Regions from separate parts of the Homo sapiens genome. Here region 1 is linked to region 2. The links come from fine-mapping of genetic effects on gene expression. A gene starts in region 2. The other region holds a variant in brackets. All regions are shown on one strand. Distances are between the middles of the regions. Region 1 has its middle 38 kb from the start of LCAL1. Region 2 holds the start of HMGN3 (high mobility group nucleosomal binding domain 3).

Evidence for each region. PIP is the estimated chance that this variant, and not a neighbour inherited with it, causes the effect.
Region 1: its variant is fine-mapped to the expression of HMGN3 in whole blood (INTERVAL, PIP above 0.99).

The regions. Positions count from the first base shown.
Region 1 is chr6:79,270,069-79,280,262 of GRCh38, forward strand. No RefSeq gene overlaps it. Among named protein-coding and RNA genes, the nearest start is that of LCAL1, 38 kb to the right of the region's middle. The variant T/G (reference allele first, on the strand shown) is at 6,462.
Region 2 is chr6:79,228,904-79,239,097 of GRCh38, forward strand. HMGN3 (high mobility group nucleosomal binding domain 3) reads right to left here and starts at 5,779. Exons shown (of 7, transcript NM_001201363.2): 1 at 5,643-5,779. The coding sequence starts at 5,657. HMGN3-AS1 (HMGN3 antisense RNA 1) reads left to right here and starts at 4,771. Exons shown (of 2, transcript NR_040671.1): 1 at 4,771-5,024; 2 at 5,159-7,897. RefSeq lists enhancers at 799-1,299, 4,317-5,107, 5,108-5,897 and a silencer at 5,055-5,104.

The DNA.
Region 1 (10,194 bases), 41 kb after region 2:
ATGGAAATCTCACAGCATGTGAAGCATAGCAACCAAGAGAGTCCCAAGGAGATTACCCAGCAACAATCAGAAAGTTAAAAACAAAGCAACACAGTAACCAAAACATAACCCAAACTATAGAGCCAAGGAAAGCAGGAAACATTCTAGGCAGAGCAGAGATGCTCTGTGTCAGGTTCAATTCAACAGTGTCACAAGATTTGTACTTCCTCACTCATATTTAGCAGATGCCTACTGTGTGGCAGTGCTTTGCCAGGGGCTAGGAATTTTAAATTGAGTAAGAAATAGTCCATGTCTTCAATGAAATAACCCCAGCAGTACAGTGTGACAAATGCTAGGAAGAGGCATCAGCAAAGTACCATGGGAGAAAAGGAGATTTGGGGTGTCTGGGGATATGTTTAATTTGAGGTGTGTTGGGACATTCAGTTGGAACTGAACTGATCTCAGACTTCATTTGGCAGTTGGATTTATAGGCTATAGCTTGGAGCAGATAGTATGAATGGTGATATATGATAAGAGTATCTATAGGTTGTAGGCCAAGTGCAGTGGCTCATGCCAGTAATCCCAGCACTTTGGGAGGCTGAGGTAGGTGGACCATTTGAGGTCAGGAGTTCAAGATCAGCCTGACCAGCTGGTGAAACCCCATCTCTACCAAAAATACAGAAAAATTAGCTGGGTGTGGTGGTGCATGCCTGTAGTCCCAGCTACTTGGGAGGCTGAGGCAGGAGAATCGCTTGAACCCTGGAGGCAGAGGTTGTCACAAGCCAAGATCACACCACTGCACTCCAGCCTGGGTGACAGAGTGAGACTCCATCTCAAAAAAAAAAAAAAAAGTATCTATAGGTTGTAGTTGAAGTTAAGGAGTTTGGAGAGAGTCATGAGGGTACAATTAAAATGACTGAAGAGCTCTGGGGAGTATTGGCATTTAATGGAGAAAACAAGAAGAGGAAGATGGAAGGAGGTAGAAGTAAACCAGGAAAGCAACAGAAATGGAGGCAAGAGTGAGCACCAAGAAGTGTCCAATGCTGCACAGCACTCCAAAGTATATGTTGAATTTGGAAAGGAGGAGATCACTGGTGACATTCATTAGCCAGCTTAGAGCCATGAAAATTAAGGAAGGAGAGAGAGCAAATGTAAATACATTCTTGGTATTGTAAAGGAAAATCCAGCAACTTTTCCACTTGAATAGCACACTTTGACACAAGCTTCAAGCAGCTAGTCTAGTAGGCTCTAGTTCAACTCTAAACTCTTTTTCGTCATTTAAATAAGATCTACTTTCAAGCCCTGAGAAGCCAGGAAAGAGAGTATGAAGTGAACTGACACTTGAGTAGTTATCAGGTCCTGGTCTTTTACATACATTATTTCATTTAATACCCACAAAACCATTTAAAGAAGTTATCATTTTTTAGTTTAAGATTCAAAGGAATGATAAAAGTGAGGTGTAAGTTGTAGCATTGCTTACTAACCTCAACTGTTACCACTTTGTTTTGATTTTATAGCCTCAGGAAGACTTAACATTTATCTTATGTTATCTTTACCTTATGCTTATGAGTCTTCCAGGTTTTGAAAAGTCTTGGGCCATTGGCTATCTGTGACCTATCGGAATACTTCTTTTAGGGTCACTCCCACCTTCTCTTGCAAGTTGCATTACAGGAGCATCACCTGCATCAGAGCTTCCTGTGTCGGCGCTCCTGGCTCATCACTTAGCTGATCCCCCTTCTGCAATTCTTAGGGGATCTTCAAACTTCAACATCTATTCTTTTTTGTTTTCTTTGGTTATCAACTTAAAAGATCACATCGCATCTCCCTAAAACCTATATCCAATCCTATGATGATTTTCTTCCAACTGGAAAAATGTACTCTGAGCAACTAATTTAAATCATTCACCTGCCACTCATATTTCCATTTCATATAAACTGCTATTTATGAATTTCAGAAAAATTGAGTGTTATCAATTCCATGAGGGCTTTGGGTGATCACTTGAGCTTTATTATGCACTGAATGTTTGTGTTCCCCCAAAATTCATATGTTAACACCCTGCTTCCCAAATATGATGGTATTAGGAGTTGGGGCCTTTGGGAGGTAATTAGGATTAGATGAGGTTATAAGGGTAGGGACCCTATGAATGAGATTACTGCCCTTATCAGGGTCCTGAAAGAGCTTGCCTCCCCTCTCTGCTCTTCAGTATGTGAGGATAAAACAAGAAACTTGGCAGTCTGCAACTTGGAAGAGGATCTGCACCAAAGCCGGACCATGCTGGCATCCTGATCTCAGACCTCCAGCCTCCAGAACTGCGAGAAATAAGTTTCTGTTATTTATAAGCCATCTATTCTATGATGCTTTTTTATAGCAGCCTGACAAACACCAGGTTCTTGGAGGAAGTGATGGGAATATGGACTCTTGATGCTTTTCTTTAATTTAATGTTTATGTAGTTTTTTGTATTTTAAAATTTATATGATTTACATATTAGTGAGGTCAGTCTACTATTTTAATGTCTAGGAGATGTATTAACTTGTATAAACAGGACCCCAAAATGGTATAGATTAATTGAAGAACCTTTTTAAAGCAATCTATCATTTTAAGGGTACATCTCTGAGAATCTGATTTTTTATAGCATTGTTTTTGAAATAAGAAACTCTCAAGAACTTGTCCTCTTAGCCCACATGTGGACAGCTCCAGGCAGTTTAATCAGGTCTCTGTGTTGCTGAACAATGTACCTTATACAAAATCACATCTGGGGCTAAACCTCAACTCATTTCAATTTCTCAAGCAACATGTGAACAAAACAATATTTACTTTAAATATCACAAGCTGTATGTTCATGTTGACATATAATATTAAGATTAAATCACATAGCCTAAATGCCTACTTTTTATTTGGTTTAAAAGTTCATTTAAATACTATCTTATTTCCTAGAGGCTTAGACTCTTAAACCAGAAAGCCTTTTCTACGTTACACTGTAAAATCAAGCTATTGGATTTAAAAAGTTCACCAAACATGAACAGAAAGCTAACACCACTTTTAAATGATTCTGGAGTAGCATTAAAAAACCCTCAATTTGGAAGGTCATTGAATTCAAATCCAATCTCTTTATGCTTAAAGAGCCTATAAAATAGCTCTTCAGGCATAAAGGTATAATGATTAATGTAAATATTCCTTATACTTAAAAAATTTTGACTTTACCTTCAATCCATTTGTCTTAACCATAACTTCTGGCTCCATTATAAACATATTTAATTCACTTCTAATTGACAATTCTTTTTATTTTTTAAGGGAAACTTGTATATCCCTCCTAAGGTTAGCTTTGTTGTATGATTTTGATGTGCATGGCTACTTTGGGGTGAGACAGGGAACAACCAATATCTTGCCATTCCCATTTTTCTAGACATTGGTATTGAATCTAGAAAGAAAGAAATGAAAGGACTGAAATGTCTGCAAAAAATTCCAAAGTAGAAGTTTTAAGGAATTTTTTTAAATAAAGAAAGTCAGATAAAAATGAACTGGAAAAAATGTATAATTGCTGTGCAAATGGTCATTTTTTGGAAATAAGACAAACTTTCTCCATCAGAAGGAGGAAATGGTTGCATATGGGCTAATAGTTTTGTAGGAAAACTGGCGATTATTACAAGGACAGAACTGCAAAAGTGTAATATCTAGTTTTAGTCTAGAAAGTAATTGGGCTAAGTGAAGCTCAATTCTCTGATGGATTGCAACCTATCTGAGAATATGGCCTCTGTAATACTTTGGGAATGGAATTTTGTGCCAGAATTTAAAAACCTTAGTAAATTGCCAGAATTGAGAGAGAAAGAAGGCTTGGTGTTGGGTACTGTTAGTTGAAAGTTGTCAAGGAAGAAACACAACCAGGTGAAATAAGGAAAGATTTCAAAGGCATAAAAGGAGTAACAGGGAGGGCAAACCTTGACTTTCTTATCCATCACCTTATTGAAGGGTGGTCTAGTTAGATAATGCTAGAAGAGCTGAAAGTGACCTCGAGAACCTCTGCTTCTACCACTTCATTTTTAGATGACAAAATTGAGCCTCGAGAAAAGCTACTTGGTGGTAGACCTGGGATTCGAACCAAGAAACTCTGTTCTCAGTCTTTGGGAAAAAATTATTTTATTTAACATCACCTAACATGTTCTCATTAGTTATTGCTAAGGTATTATAATAAAAACAATGCTGTGGTTGCATGTAAATGTATACAAATGAACATCATCATCATCATCATCATCACTATTTTTCTGAGCATTTGGAAAGAAAACTGTTGCATTTGTCTTAGATAAAAGACTCAGATAATTCCCTAGAAGCCTGAGGACAAGATTCTAGATCAATCCTCTAAACTAGGTTGATTCCTCATCCACTTTCTGACCTCCTACTTTCTTGGTGAGAAATGATTATTGACCCTCCTCAATGAGGGTGTAATGATAGAGCATAGTATTTTGTCCCCTATTGGATGTTGCATGGAGAGTTGGGCTGAAATTCTTCTGTGCAAGTGAGAAGCCATAAAGGGAAGAAAGGGTCAGACACTTCCAAATCTTTGGATTTTCTTAGTTCCTCTTTTGTAAGCCTCAATTGTTGTGTGTAGTCAGCAGGGTCCCAGAGGCAGACCACCACGGACCATCTTGGCAGTACTTGTCAGCAGCAGTGTCCAGCTCCCAGGGACTAACTCAGTTAGTGGTAGCTCTTGTTCCTAGTGACAGAGCCTTCCTGGGGCTGCTCCAGTAGCAGCCAGAGCTCCTAAGGAGAAGCAGCTCTGCCAGTCTTCCAAGTCCCAAGCTCCATCTCCTTCAGCAACAACACAGGTCTCCATTATTCTTTCTGAAGATACCCTTTGTCCCAGTTCCTACTGAATCCAGCAGTGTTTTTCAATCTGTGTGTTTCAGATGCCTGAGAAGTCACCAAATTACTGCAAGAACAAGTGAATTAATATTTACATAAAGTATGTATGTTAATAAGCTGAATAAATGTTAATAGTTACTGTACTTATACTCTGTACTGTACTAAGCCCTTTGCACACATTATCTCATTTAATCCTCATAAAAATGCTATGAGGTAGGTGTAATTATGACCCCCATTTTACAGGTGAGGCAACTCAGTCTCAGAGAGGTTAAGCAAATTGCTGAAGATCATGAGACCAGGAAATGGATAAACTGGTCTTCAAATCCAGGTCATTTAATCTCAAAGTCTACGATCTTAATCATAACATAAGTATGTCTCTTACATATGTGTATTACTTTTTTACAAATGTTTTTGTGTTTTGATTTAAAAGTTATAGATGAAAAGTATTATGTAATTTGTAGTAGATTTTTAAATCTTTGTTTATTTTCACTATTTTCTACACTGAAAGTACCTCAACTGCCATATGATTGGTACATGACACAGTCTTTTTAAAGAGCTCTTTCAAGGATTTTTACTCAAGGCCTTTAAAAAATATAGTAGAGAAAAATGACTTTGTAAGTCAATGGAACATCATATTTGTACCTGACCTCTTAGCAGCATTCTGTTGTTCCTTAAGCAGGGGACCCTATCACTGATTGATCCCTTGAGTCAAATAAGCAATGAGGCACCTCTCAAGACTTTGAGTTACATTCAAATCATCAATTCTGACACAAAAAATTGGAATAGACAAAACATGGTGAAATGAACTTAATTGACTAGCTATTTCATTCATTTATTCACCCATTCAATACATTTTATTGTCTCCTACCAGGCATTGAGTTAGGAACTAAAGATGCAGCCTTCCAAGCAAGAAGTGGTGTTTGTCAATTGCAAGAAAATGTGACACCTGACTAGTTACTTTGCCTGTAAAAACTCTTTTATTCTTTGTTTTTAATATTTATATTCTACATACCCTCACCCTCTAAAAATTTACTTAGCAAATGCAAAACTTAGGAAATATAGGCCAATTAGAGTTTCGCTCTAAAAAATAATCAGGTCCTACTTGGTCTGCTCCCCAGGGCTCTGAAACATCACTACCCATGGGTCACTCTACAGGGACCCTAGTTACCATGGCTGCTAGCTAAATCTTTGAATCCAGTTTTGTGCTTTACTGTGTGGGGGCTCTGCTTGGACACAAAGGAAGGATTACAGAGAAATTTCTCAAAAAGCCTTTAGTTCGTCTTTTGATTCTAAAGAAAAACTATGACTGATAGATTTTTGGGAAATGGCATTTCAAATCTTTAGGTTAGAATCAGAAGACAGGTTAGACAGGAGGAATTTAGGGGGCTTTTGCGTACTTGGAAATCAGCATCAAGACAGCCTTGCTGCTAGCCTCAGGAATAAGGCCTACTTCTAAAAATTGGGTTTGGCCATGGCCTCTGGGCCTGAACCCTTCTTAACCTCAGTCTTTCTTTTTTTTCCTAACATGTCAGCAGTGCTGAAGCCTTGCTAACTGCTGGCAGACTTTTCTAGTGCTGTCTGCTTGTAGCCTGTCCTGGATCCCCCATAATTGGGCACTGCCTAC[T/G]TGGTCATGTAGTGGTGAATACTCTTTTTTGGCTTACCTTTCACGTGGATGTTGCCCTGCCTATTGATAACCATTTTTCATTCATTCAACAAATATTTATTGCATGCCAGGCATTGTTCTGGGACCTGGAAATATAACAGTGAATAAAATAGACAAAACCAACAACAATGACAACAAAAACCCCTTGCCTTCATGAAGCTTCACATTCTAATAGATAGTGAAGTCTGATGAGCTGGCTTGCTTCCTCATCAGCCACAGCTGGATACTTTCCCCTATAACTGCACATTCTGTTTCCAGGTCCTAATTCTCTATAGTCTGTGGTCCCACTGCAGCGAAGGAAACTGTCCTCTTACAGGATAAAGAGTGTTATATGAAGAAAGGAAACAGGACCAAAAGCAAGTAAATAGGGGTGGCATAAACTTAGAGATAGAAATATGTTCAGGTTTGCAAAAATTCGAGGAACAATAAATAAAACTTTTAAAGTGTATTTAACAAAGAGAAACAAAGATGCAGCAGCCTACTGGGTGTAGTTTAGTCAGCAGTGATCTATTACTGAAAGATTACTTAGAAAAAACCAAGCTCCTCAACCTCAGTTTTACTTGTGTCTTTTTGCAGAGGAGAGTAGGGAGAGGAGTAGGAGGGAAGGAGAGACTCCTTAGCAAGAGAAAGAGAAGCCCAAAGTGGGAGAACATAATTATATTCTAAATAGTTTCCCAACTCTGATAACTTGCATCCCAGTGTTCTGTGGAAGATGTTCAAATTGCATTGCTGATCTAATCTGGAAAGAATGTAGAACTGTAAAGGGTGGTAGAAGTGGCAGGAAACTGGGCATGGTTAAATACTGTTCCCATTTTGAAGAAGTGGGAGATTTTGCATAATAAACATCAGTGACTAGATGTTGGATATTTAAAGGTATATAAACTATTTATTGATAGACAAGGCTTATAGATTTATTTCTTCTGGGACACAAACATGATGTGGCCATAGAGGCCAGTGGCCTCAGTATGCTTAGTCTTGGACATGAAAGCTGAAGTATCATGTCTTGGCTGGATGCAGTCATTCATGCCTGTAATCCCAGCACTTTGGGGGGCCAAGGTGGGAGGATCGCTTGAACCCAGGAGTTCAAGACCTGTCTAGGCAACATGGTAAAACCCTGTTTCTACAAAAAAATACAAAAATTAGCCAGGCATAATGACACACACTTGTAGTCCCAGCTACTCAGGAGGATGAGGAGGGAGGTTTGTTTGAGTCCTAGGAGTTGTAGCCTGTAGCAAGCTATGATCCCACCACTGCAATACAGCCTGGACAATAGTGAGATCCTACGTCTTGAAGAAGGAAAGAAAGAAAGAAAGAAAGAAAGAAAGAAAGAAAGAAAGAAAGAAAGAAAGAAAGAAAGAAAAGAAGAAAGAAAGAAAGAAAGAAAGGTAGGAAGGAAGGAAAGAAAGAAAGAAGGAAGGAAGGAAGGAAAGGAAGAAAGAAAGAAAGAGAAGGAGAGAAAGAGAGAAAGAGAAAAAGGGAGAGAGAGAGATAGAGAAAGAAGAAAAAAAAGAAAGAAGAAAAGAAAGAAAGAAAAAGTGGCATGGTCTCTGGTGGGGAAGAATCTTCTTTATTTGCTGCAGATCTTCACAGAGCTTGTTGTCCAGACCTTTGGCCAGGACTCAGCTGTAATTTCCATCCTTCACGTCCTTCTGTCTGTTTAAGAACCAATCTGGGATCTTGTACTGGCCTGGGTTTGGCATGATGATGATCACACATATCACTTCATGCTCAGTGAATCCTCTAACCTCTTGATGAGGTCAATCTCTGTTTTCCCCAACAACACATGAGCATGTTTTCATCTCACACTCTTAATGGTACTGATGGTAAATTTCTGCCATCCATTGATGTTGGTGTTGAGTGCAGTCGTCCCTTGGTATGCACAGTGTATTGGTTTCAGAACTCCCAGAGGATACCAAAATCCTTGGATGCTCAAGTCCCTTATATAAAATGGTGTAGTATTTGTATATAACCTATGCACATATTCTCATATACTTTAAATCATCTCCTGATTACTTGTAATATCTAATACAACATAAATGCTATGCAAATAATTGTTACACTCTATTATTTAGGAAATAATGACAAGAAAAAATGTCTGTGCATGTTCAGTAAACACAACCATCCATTTTTACCAGGTATTTTTTAATGCAAGGTTGGTTGAATCCTCAGATGTCGAGCCCATGGATACTCTCCACAGCCAGAGAGAGAGTACTGACTGCACTTGCAAAAATTGCTGGAGTATAGCAGGGATTATGAGAGATATGGTAGTAGCATGTAGACCTCCTGTGGGAGAGAAATAGTGGATTTTTTAAAAGTTTGTTTGGAAGCTTCTAGATTAGGATTGGGCAAACTATGGCCCACAGGCCAAATGCAACCCATTGCTTATTCTTGTTAATAAAGTTACATTCCAAGGAAGCCATGCCAATTTATTTATGCATTGTCTATGTCTGCTTTCATGCCACAATAGCAGAGTTGAGAAGATTATCATATGGCCTACAAAATTCTAAATATTTACTTCTTATGTATTGCTTTATAGAAAACTTTGATTCTAGGTAGAAAAAGCACTGGGCACTAGGACTTGAGTTTGCTAGGAACAGTTACGTCCAATGAAACAATAATTTCTTTTTGGTCAGACTTTCCAGACAGAACAGGGAAATGTTATTCACACTGAGCATCTGGTCTTCACTAAAAATTCAACCACCATTTCTTGAGTATTTACTATATAACAAGCATTCGGAATATAAAGATGAAAAATTGTGTGGAACAGGAGCCACATACATAAGGGGATAATTCCAAATAAAGTAGTACTTGCTATGAGAGGAGTGTGTCCAGAATGGTGCAAGAGCTCTGAGGGGGACGTTTACTAAATCTGGGATTTATAGCAAAGGAATACAGTGGGATCAGTGGGTAGAAAATTACTAAGAGGAAACATCAAGGATAGACGGCCAGAGAGTTTCTGGCCAAACTGACTTGATGGGGTTAGACATGAAGAAGACAAAGTGCAAGATGAGTACTAAAGACTAAAGAACAAGCAAGAATTAGGTCTGAGATGAAGCAAGATTCCAAGCAGAGAGATCCACTTCAGCAGTGGCTCATGGCACAAGATAACATGTTTAGTGGGAGAATAAAATTCAGTGTGACATTATTATAAAGTGCAAAGTGGGAAATGGCAGGAGCTGCAGGTTGAGGCCGGGTTCAAAGAAGGAATGTTTTTGCCATGCTGATGAATTTGAACTTTATTATAGAAGCAAAGTATTTCAATATACTGAAGTATTTTAATTGCTGGAGTAAAACTGTCAGATTTGCAACTTAAATGAGCCCATTTGGCAATGATGTGAGACAAAAGAAGAAACAGGGAGCCTGGCTCAGGGGTTACTAATAGAAACCAATCAAAAAGAGGTTAGTGCCTGGACTGGGGCAGTGTTAGTATGGGTTGAAAGGAGGAGCACATTCGAGAAATATAGGATGTAAGATAGGCAAAAATTAGCAACTGATTAGACTTAGTGATGCAAGAATATGATAAATCTAGAGTAACCCATAGATTTCTGGCCTAGACAAGTGATGTCATCAATTGCTGATATGGGAAAGGCAGAAGGAGAACCAGGTTTGGGCATGGTAAAGATGAAGAATTCGGTTCTGAACATGTTGAAGAGAGGAACCTGTAGGTAATCTATTTGGAGATTTCCAGAAAGAA
Region 2 (10,194 bases):
GACCATAAAACATAATTGAGTGTCCAGAAATAAAGTTTTACATTTATGAAGGAGCTTCAACAAAGGTGCGTAGGCAATTCAGTAGAGAAAGGATGGTCTTTTCAACAAATGGTGCTGAGGTAATTGGATTTCTACAAGCAATAAAATGAATTTAAACCCTTACCTCATACCACACACAAAATTAATTCAAAATGGATAACATACCTAAATATAAGAGTTAAAAGTATAAAACCTCTATGAGAAAACATCCATAACCTTGAATTAGGCAAATATTTATTAGATATTAACACTAAATGGATTTCATCAAAATTAAAAACTTTTGTTCTTCAAAAGACACCATTAAGAAAAAAATATATTTTTAAGTCACAAACTGGGAGAATATATCTACGAATCATATATCTGATAAGGGACTTGTATCTCAGACTTATAAAGAACTCTTTCAATAATAAGACAACCCAATTAAAAATGGGCAAAATATCTGAATAGACATTTCACATATGATACACATTATGCTAGTAAACACGTGAAAAGATGCTTATTGTCAGTAGTTATTACAGAAATATAAATTAAAATTCATAAGAATCTCTATAAGCAAAAAATCAACAATACCAAGTATGAACAAGTATGTTGAAATTAGAACGCATGCACTTTGGAAAACAGTTTGGAGGTTCCTTAAAACGTTAAACATAGACGGCCGGGCGCCGTGGCTCACACCTGTAATCCCAGCACTTTGGGAGGCCGAGACGGGCGGATCACGAGGTCAGGAGATCAAGACCATCCTGGCTAACACGGTGAAACCCCGTGTATACTAAAAATACAAAAAAATTAGCCGGGCGTAGTGGCGGGCGCCTGTAGTCCCAGCTACTCGGGAGACTGAGGCAGGAGAATGGTGTGAACCCGGGAGGCGGAGCTTGCAGTGAGCTGAGATCGCGCTACTGCCCTCCAGCCTGGGCGACTGAGCCAGACTCCGCCTCCAAAAAAAAAAATGATAAACATAGACTTTCATACCACCTGCCAGTTCTACTCTTAGAAATCTTCCCAAGAGAAATGAAAATATATGTCCATGCAATCACTTATTTACAAATATTCACAGCAGCATTATTGATAATAATCCAAACCTGGAACAATCCAAATGTCCATCACCTTGTGAAAGGATAAACAAAAATGAGTATATCCATACAATGGAACACTACTGGACAATAAAAAAGAATGATGTACTGATATATGCTACAACACAAACTGATCTCAAAAACATCATGCTGAGTGAAAAAATCAGTCACAAAAGACTACATATTGTATCATTTCTTTTAAATAAAATTTCCAGAAAAGGCAAATCTAGATACAGCAAAAGTAGATTAGTGCCTAGGGCTAGGCTGGGAGTGGGGATTGGCTATAAACTCCATGAGGGACCTTTGTGGAATGATGGAAATGTTACAAAACTGGATTATGACAATGGTTGCGCAACTCTATACTTTACTAAAAATCACTGAATTGTATACTTCGAATGGATGAATGGACTTTATAGTAAGTAGATTATACTCAATAAATGTTTTAAAGGAAATTATACTCTCATAACTGAGAGTGCTGAGTGTCTATATCCCTCAGCACTAGCCAGTAGGTTTTTAATCTTTTTTTAAACCAGATTGGTTATTTTAAAAATTACATCTCATTATTCTTAATATTGTACATTTCTTTGATTTCTAGTAAAACCAAACATTTCTGTCTACTTGAGTCTTCATTATTTTCCTATAAAGATATACATCTTTTCCATAAGGAAATGTGAGATGCTATCTTTTTAAAACAGCAAACCTTTTTCAGTGATATGTGGTACAAATATTTTTTCCCAGTTTTTCATAAATTTAAAAATTTTGTTAACAGTTTTTTTTCCCATATTGAAATATTCATTTTCATGTAGCCAAATTTATCTGTGTTTTCATTTACAGTTTCTGTTTTTGGTGTTATGACAAGTAATATTCTTTTCAAAATTAACTATCACAAACCTTGATCATGGTTAGTTAAGCATCCCCTGTGCTAATAAGCCCAATGCTACTGCTACTGGGCCTTCCATTTTAAGGAAACAGATAAAAACCTAATTTTGAGTTTCAAAGCTAGAGGCAGATGGGCTTTCCTTCCTTAAACCTTTAAGTGTCAAGAGACATGACTGCTTACATGCCACATTCATGGAAAATTGCCTCATTAGAGAATTTCTGATGTGATACACTAGACATTTAAAATAGTTCTAGTGATAAGGAACTGGAAAATATTAATAAAAAGAAAGAGGTAAAAATGTGTTTCCTGTCGCTAATCATGCCAGGACTGTGACTCTAGGCCTCGCTGGCTCATGTCTCTTCGTAGAACATCAAATCATCACATAACAACATGACCACTGCGGGCATTTGTGGATGTCTGGCCAGAACAGTCTAGAACTCAATCACTCATTGTCTCACCACTGAGTCCATGAATGTTATCATTTCCCCTGTAATTCCACTCACCCACCATCCATTATCTAAAAAATACAGGAAACTCACTTTTATTTACATCTCACAAACTTAGAGATAATATGCACTGAAGAACTCTTCACTAAGTGCTGTATTACTTCACAAAATACTATGGCATTTATAAAAAACCACTTGGCTTAATGTAGTTATGACTATCACACACAAAGATACACATAAAACTTACAAAGAAATGTCATCAGAACATTTTAATATTAATTCAGATGATATTATAGCCCTGAAGTTGCAAAACTGAGGCCTGGTCATGTTAAGATACAATCAGGAGACACACTTGAATACCTGGTAACAAAAAATGACTCTGACTTCTTTGTATATTTGAGTCCTACCCACACTTTTAAGACCAGCCTAAAGTTAACTTTCCTTATCTGTCCTACTGCTTGTGGGATCTATAACTACACATTCTGGAACACATACACAGTTTTAATGTTATTCAACTGTTTTGTGCTGCTAGTCTTATCACCTCATTGAATTAAACACAAGTTCCAAGAGGGCAAAAACTGTATGTCCCTACAGCATTACAACAGGGCTAGGATTCCAGATGTTTTCATTGACTTTATCTGTACCACTTCTTGCTCTGCAGAACAACTTACTCAGATGTTCATTAAATAACATTTCTTGATTTCTAGGAAAGGTTGATACAGGGGGCTAAGAAGGCAAAAAAGTACTAGGGGGACATTTTAAAAGCTTATTATATTGTAGAGCAGACAATTCTTTAGTCAAGAAAAATATTGTGTAGTATGTAAATGCTTTGGCAGTTACCCCAGCTTTGAAGATCTTGAAGAGCTATGCATGGATTGTCTCCAGTTCTTTTTTGTATCTAAGCAGGCTTTACCTAATGACAGTGGTTCCTCACATAAGTTCCAGTGAACTTCAGGATTCCATGAGGCTGCTCTAAGACTTGACTGATAGATGGATGGCCATGATCGCCGTGTTTAATCTGAGGTTGTTCCTGCCCAGGTACCAACTGAGGTCGTTAGGCTTCAGGTATAAATGGAAAGCCTTCCTATTAATCAAGGAGAGGTTTTCCATCACCGGAGAACACTCTGATGTCCTCAGGAATGACACACAGGTGCCTGTACACAGTTTTGCCCCTAGTCTCAGGACCATTGGCTAGCTTATGCATGGGGGTTCCCTGCCTTCCAGGGAAATAAAACTGTAGCTGTAATTTTACTGTTATTTTAGTTTTTTTTTTTTTTCCTTCCGTCTCCTTGAGAGAGGCAGACAGGGGAAGTAAGAATAATGGTTTCAGCAGCTCTGGCCCTTGAATAAACAGCAAGGAAGGGTTCCATCGTCAGGGTCCATTATACATAAAGTGTGCACACCTAACCTACTGTTTATGTAAACAATGGTTATAATTCCCAGGAAAAAAAGATGGCCTCCAGCTCACTTACTCTGTAACCCGTATCTTGATGATTAGTTCCTTTGTCTCTACTAGAATTTCCAATCCATCATTAACCCTCAGTCAAAATGCTGAAAATGGTGACATCACTTAATATCCTAATTCTAGTAAAACAGGGCTAGAAAATACCTTCATAAAATTAAGTTTAAATAATAAATCTCAAGTATTAGTGCTCTTAATATGCCATCTGTCTTCTTAAACTGGGAGTACCTTTGGATTTCCTTAATTCCTCTTGACCCACCCTTTCGTAAGTGAGTACGAAATGGGTGAGAATAAGACTTTGGCATCTATAGCATCTGATTAAATCTTTACTAGTAGTTATTGGTTGGTGAGATGCAGGACAATTTATGTCTTTAAGTCCCAGCTGAATGGGGGTAACACCGCTCAAGCTGTTTTCAGGATTAAATGAGATAATGCAAGTCAAATTCTGCACAGCGTGAGGGACACAGTATGTGCACAACAAACTCTAAGACTTTTAAACACTTTCAATTATTTTTAAAAAGTGGGGTAGGAGACAAGTTTCTACCCAATTTTTAGTAATAACATATAAGAAGGGGAAAGCTTTTGAATTTTTAAAACTTCAGTATTTTAAAATAATGCAGTCACTCTCACACACAAATTAGTCCATGGTCTTTGATAAAGCAAGACATTAGGTGTAATTTTGCTTCAAATTTAATACCCACACTCGTTGACACTGTTGGAAACACTGAGGCTGGCGGTGGGAGGGTGCAAAGCACTTGCTTAGGAACCAGCTGAGAAATCCTCACTGATTTCTCAGGGAGGAGGAAACCTTTCCCTTCCCTCCCCGGGACAAGTCGAAGCCCCACCCCGAGGGAGATTTGTGTCCCTGAATGTAGTAGTTGGTGTCCGGGGCCTGCGCAGAAGAGGACAGTCCGCAAGGGGCGGAAGACAAGACAAAAATGACTCCAGTTCGCTAGACGCGCAGAGGGGCGGATAGCGCGCGGACCCCGCCTTCCCCAACCGAGTGTGGGTTCCAGTCGCTGGGGAGGACCTGGTGGCCCCCTGACCTTGGACGAGCCATATTGGACGCCCCGGCGCCGTCCCGTCTTCCACGCTGCCAACTCCACCGCTCCCGCCCCGAACTGCGGGTAGGTCCAGGCCGCCAGGCCCCGCCTCGCCGGCCCCAGCCCTGATTGACACTGGAGTTGGTACATACGGGTCTGCAGCGGAGGCGAGCAGGAGGGTGAGCGCTATTTTAAACATGGCTTTCTCTTTCCCTTAGCCTAGGAGCCACCGCAGCGCACCCAGCCCGCGAGTACAGCCGCATGGGAATAATCCCAACATTTGCCTGATTTATTTTCTTCCCTCTCCTTACGCTTGTACTTGTTTTTCTCCTCTCGCTGTTTTCCCTTCACACTAATTCGCAACCTGGCAGTTTGCAAAGAGGAAACTCCCTTTCGGAATGGAAAGCCGCTTTTGCTTCTTGTTGTTGGGGGTGGAAAACATTCCAGCGAGAATGAGTTCAAAAAGAAGGGAAACCGCGTCACTGGAGAGAAAGTAACATTAAGAGATCGATGAGGACGGAGTGGGTAGGGGGGACAGAGAGAGGAACGTCTGCAACAGGCATCTAAAAACAAGCGTGGAGGAGCAAAGATTCCCAATCCCCGGGTTACTACCGCGCGCGTTCTGCGCGAGCCATTGCAATGCCAGCATTTACTGTAAGCAGAATTTGAAGGCTTTTGAAATCTTTTTTTGGTAAGACTTACCTTTCTCTTCGGCATAATGACTATGTCGGTGAAGCAAAAAGTAAAGCAACGGACTGGAACTGCTGGCGCCGCCGCTGGATGCTGCCTCTGCCTCTGCAGCTGCTCACGCGCAGGGCACGACGTAGCCCGGCCTCTTCGACCTGCACCTCCGCGGCTCCCTCTGGGGGCCCTCTGCTCGCCTCCCTGCTGCTCCAATGAGGAGCCCCGCCAGCCGGCCGCGAGGCCCCATTGGCTGAGGCAACGTTCTAAATTCCACGAGGGCACGCCCACCTCCGCGCGCGGTACGCGCTGTTGTAGTTTCCACTTCACCGAAAAAAATCTGCCTGGCGACTGAGCATGCCCAGTTCAACTAGTAGCCTCCAGGCCACACAATCCTGAAGTTTCATTGTTTCGCTGCTCTCTCTTTGAGATTGTAAGAATAAGAACAGTGTGTGTCTTCATAGGAAGGAAAAAGAGTAAGAATGAATACGTAAACTTTATAATGTAAATATATACACAGCAGGTACCTTATTCATTTCCTACCCATAAAGGCTTTTAATGAATGTTACATGGTGGGAATCTGTAAAGCGTGGGAAGGTACTCTGTACTGGAAGAGCGTGGCAACTTCTAAAGGCCTCAGTTTCCCCCCCTAGATATATAGTGACAACAGTCCCTAAAATCACTTAGCTCTAATTTTCTGAAATCTGTGATTATAAATCACTCACTAATTCAGCTAACTTCAAACTAGATGTGAAGACGAATAGGACATGTTTGTTACGGAAATTAGGAAAAGAAAGAACAAGGCAAAAACTGATTATTTTATATTTGAGACATATATTTGAATGACACCCGTCATGTTACACTTTATGCGTAATATTTCTCAAAGTTCTGCAAGGCATAAAATGAGCATTGCAAAAATATTTCTGAATTCATTTTATGAGACCAGATTTACTCTGATACCAAAACCAGTGAAAGACTTCAAAAGAGAGTTACAGACCAATATCACTCATAAACATAGACACAAAAGTCGTGAACAAAATTTTAGTAAATGAAACTCAACAACATTTAAAGGGACAATACATCATGACCTGTGGGGCTTATCTTGGGAATGCAAAGCTGCTTTTTTAATATCTGAGAATCAATCAATGTAATTGGCAGGATTAATAGAATAAAGGGGGAAAAACAATCCTTTCAGCAGATGCAGGAAAAGCGCTAGTGAATGGGTAAGCAAATTGTGATGAGCACATGCAGTGGAATACTATTCAGCAATAAAAAACAATAAAAAATTTTCCTACATGGATGAATATCAAAAACAAAGTGCTGTACGAAAGAAGTCAAATACAAAAGACCACACTGAATGATTGCATTCATATGAAATTATAGAAAAAGCAAAATTGGGCAAAGTTAGTTTCAGAATCATCTTAGCAGGCAAAGCTCACATCATAGGAAAATGTGTTGAAGCCTTACATTACAAATATGGCCAAATCCACTTTGGTAACACAGAGGCTGCAAATATGTATTAAAAATATCATGTATTAAATATGTATTAAAAAAGCAATGAAGTTTAATATTTCACTTTTTCTTTAGTAATTTTCAGAATACATTAATTGATCTAGTACTCTCCAGAGGTGGTTGATTACTTTCTTTTTTGGAACATCTTTATGAACTCATGGATTTTTACATATTTGGTGTGCATCAGTGTATTGCTATCATTATTATTACCTTTTTAATGCTCCTATTACCACATCTTTAGCCAATGCATACCCTTTCAAATTAGTGCTTGTGTCCTTTTGACATGATCTTAATCATTTTTGATAGATTCCCTGTTCTTGGGCATTCAGTGAATGACAATAGTATACTGAAACGAATTAAGATAAAAACCAATTGCTTAGAGCTAGATAAAAATTTACAAGTTAATAATTTTATCATTAAAATAATATTTATAATGAAGATGTCTTTCAAGATATTAATTTGCCAAATACTTGATAGTTAAATAAAGAAAAAGTCAGTGAAAACATTTTTAGTAAGATATGTGTGAGAAGGATACTGAGTAGCACTTGCAATCTGGACTGGATGGCTATTTTTCTTCATGGAGATGGAAAGGTGCCACAACAAAGGTAGTGCTAAGGTGAATATTTCTCCTCTGTGATGAAAAATAACTCACAAAATTGGCTTCTTTGTTAATTTTTTTTCAAAACCAAACACTCAGATCATCAACAGCAAACAAAATTGTGAATGTTTTTACTGCACACAATAAAAATGCTACGATGAAATTGAAGCTTGCTTGTTGGATGAAGAAAGCTGATTGTGAGGACCTCGAGTTCTTGGAATCTTTAGTTCATTTACAAGTTATGAAAATAACAGCTTCGGTTGAAAAACAACAGCATTGCTTATCTTTCCTTTGATGTAGATTGCACCTGGCTGAGCACTACTCTAGGAAATGAAGTGTTCTCCCTTGTACCTTTAGTAGCCTTCAAGATCTGGGAAAGTCAGTGCAAACCTCTACTGGTGGCCCTGGAGGTAAGAAGAGTAGGCAAAGAGAATGATTTAGCAGGTAGCTAGAATTCTAGGTTAAGAGATAAAGACATCTGGGCAGAAATGAGGGTGTCACATAGAAGACAGTGAGGAGGTCAAGCTGGTAAGAAGTACAGACTCATTTGTTTATCAATATATTCCACTGAGCATTTCTACTACTTTGGAATATCAGCCTCTAAGACAGTAAAAGTAGGATGTATATACTATCTTAGCTAAGGTAGACCTGGATAAATTAACAGAGTTACTGACTGAGACAGAAAGAAAAAAAATAGTGAACAAACTTGTTTTCCAATTCCAGCTCCTCTCCTCTTTTGTCCTACTCAAAACTGTTGGAACTGTACACCTACTTCACATTTTTCAATCAGCAGGGCAAAACCATTTATAGTGTCATGACTATCATTAAGGAAAAGAAAGAGACAGAGACATTGACAGACACACACACGCAAACACACACACAGAGAGAGAGAGAGAGAGAGGGAGAAGGGAGAAGGGAAGGCTAAGAAAAGCAAAGAAAGGGCCAAGCATAGAAAATAGCAGAGTATATATGGTAAAGGTAAGTAATGTTTCATAAGATAATTGTTTCTATTTTCCATATGTGCTCATATAAACACATACACAACACAGATATGTATGTGTGTATGTTGGATTGTGACATGAAATATATTTTTAGTATGGTCTTGGTCAAAAAAATTGAATGCCACTGCTAATGAATGTTGTGGATCTTTGACATTCCGAAAAAAAAATGCTTAATATTAAAATTTTTTTTTTAGAGGTAAGATCTCATTCTGTTGCCCAGGCTGGCATGCAGTGGCACAATCATAGCTCACTGCACGTCAGACTGCTGGGCTGAAGAGATCCTCCTGCCTCAGCCTCCTGAGTAGTTATATAGGTGCAAGCCACCACACCAGGCTTGAGAGGAAGTTTTCAAGGGAAAGAATGACTTGCAGATCACCTCCTTCTTGAACTGTCCCTCTTTTCCTCTTTCAGGCAGACACAGGCAGGGTCCCTTAGGCTTTTGCTGTAAGTAATGACAAATTACTGGAGAAGTCAGATCCAGAATGTACATATTGTTGCTTTTGATAGTTGCAACTGTACACCTACTTTGCATTTTTCAGACAGCAGGGCAAAACAAATGATAGTCATGACTATCATTAAGGCAAAGAAAGAGACAGAGACATTGGCAGACAGACACACACACACACACACACACACACAGAGAGAGAGAGAGAGAGAGACAGACAGAGGGAGAAAGGAAGAAAGGGGAAAAGTGAAAATGATACTGTGTTGCTTCTGATAGTTTGTAATTCCAGATTAAGTTACTAATCTTCCATAAATAGGTCAAAAAATACACAGTGAAGAATTCAGGTGTGTAACAAAACAACATCAAAAACAACAAATAAGAGGTGGCAAAAGAATATTTTGTTTGTATTTTCCAGTCAAGTCTCTACTTTGATTGGGTGCTAACTTTTGAAGAGACCAAGGTTAGTTTTTACAAAGCAACAATAAGAGTCCAAGAACTAACGGTCCCAAATCAAATGAGCTGCCTGATATTAGTGCAGATCCCTAGGCCCCAGTCCCAAGGTATTGAATGGCTAGGCTTGGAAATCTGCATTTTCAAACAAGCTTTTCATGTGTTGCTTACACTATAATTCGGGGACTAGAGTATTTAATAGACTAGGCCCTTGCTCTCAACAAATATTTGCTGAATGCCGGTACTTGGATTCTGATGACAGGTATCTATAAAAGCCTGTGGAGTTCTCAACATACTTCCAGAGCAGGAGCGTAATTCTGTGGGTGAAACTCGCCCCACAGTCCTCACCTCATGCTTTTGCTCCATCTCAGTTTTGCTGGGCACAACCTGTTTATTTCACTTTCTTTCTCTTCTGTAGTTGCAAGGAACCTGAAGAGTGATTAAAAACTGCACACATCCAGATACCTAGAAAAGTGTCTTCTTCTTCCCAGGCAGCCCCTCTAGGCAGCTCCTTGGGCCCCTGGGAGATGAAAATCCCTGATCCCAAATCCTCAAAGGGAACTTACC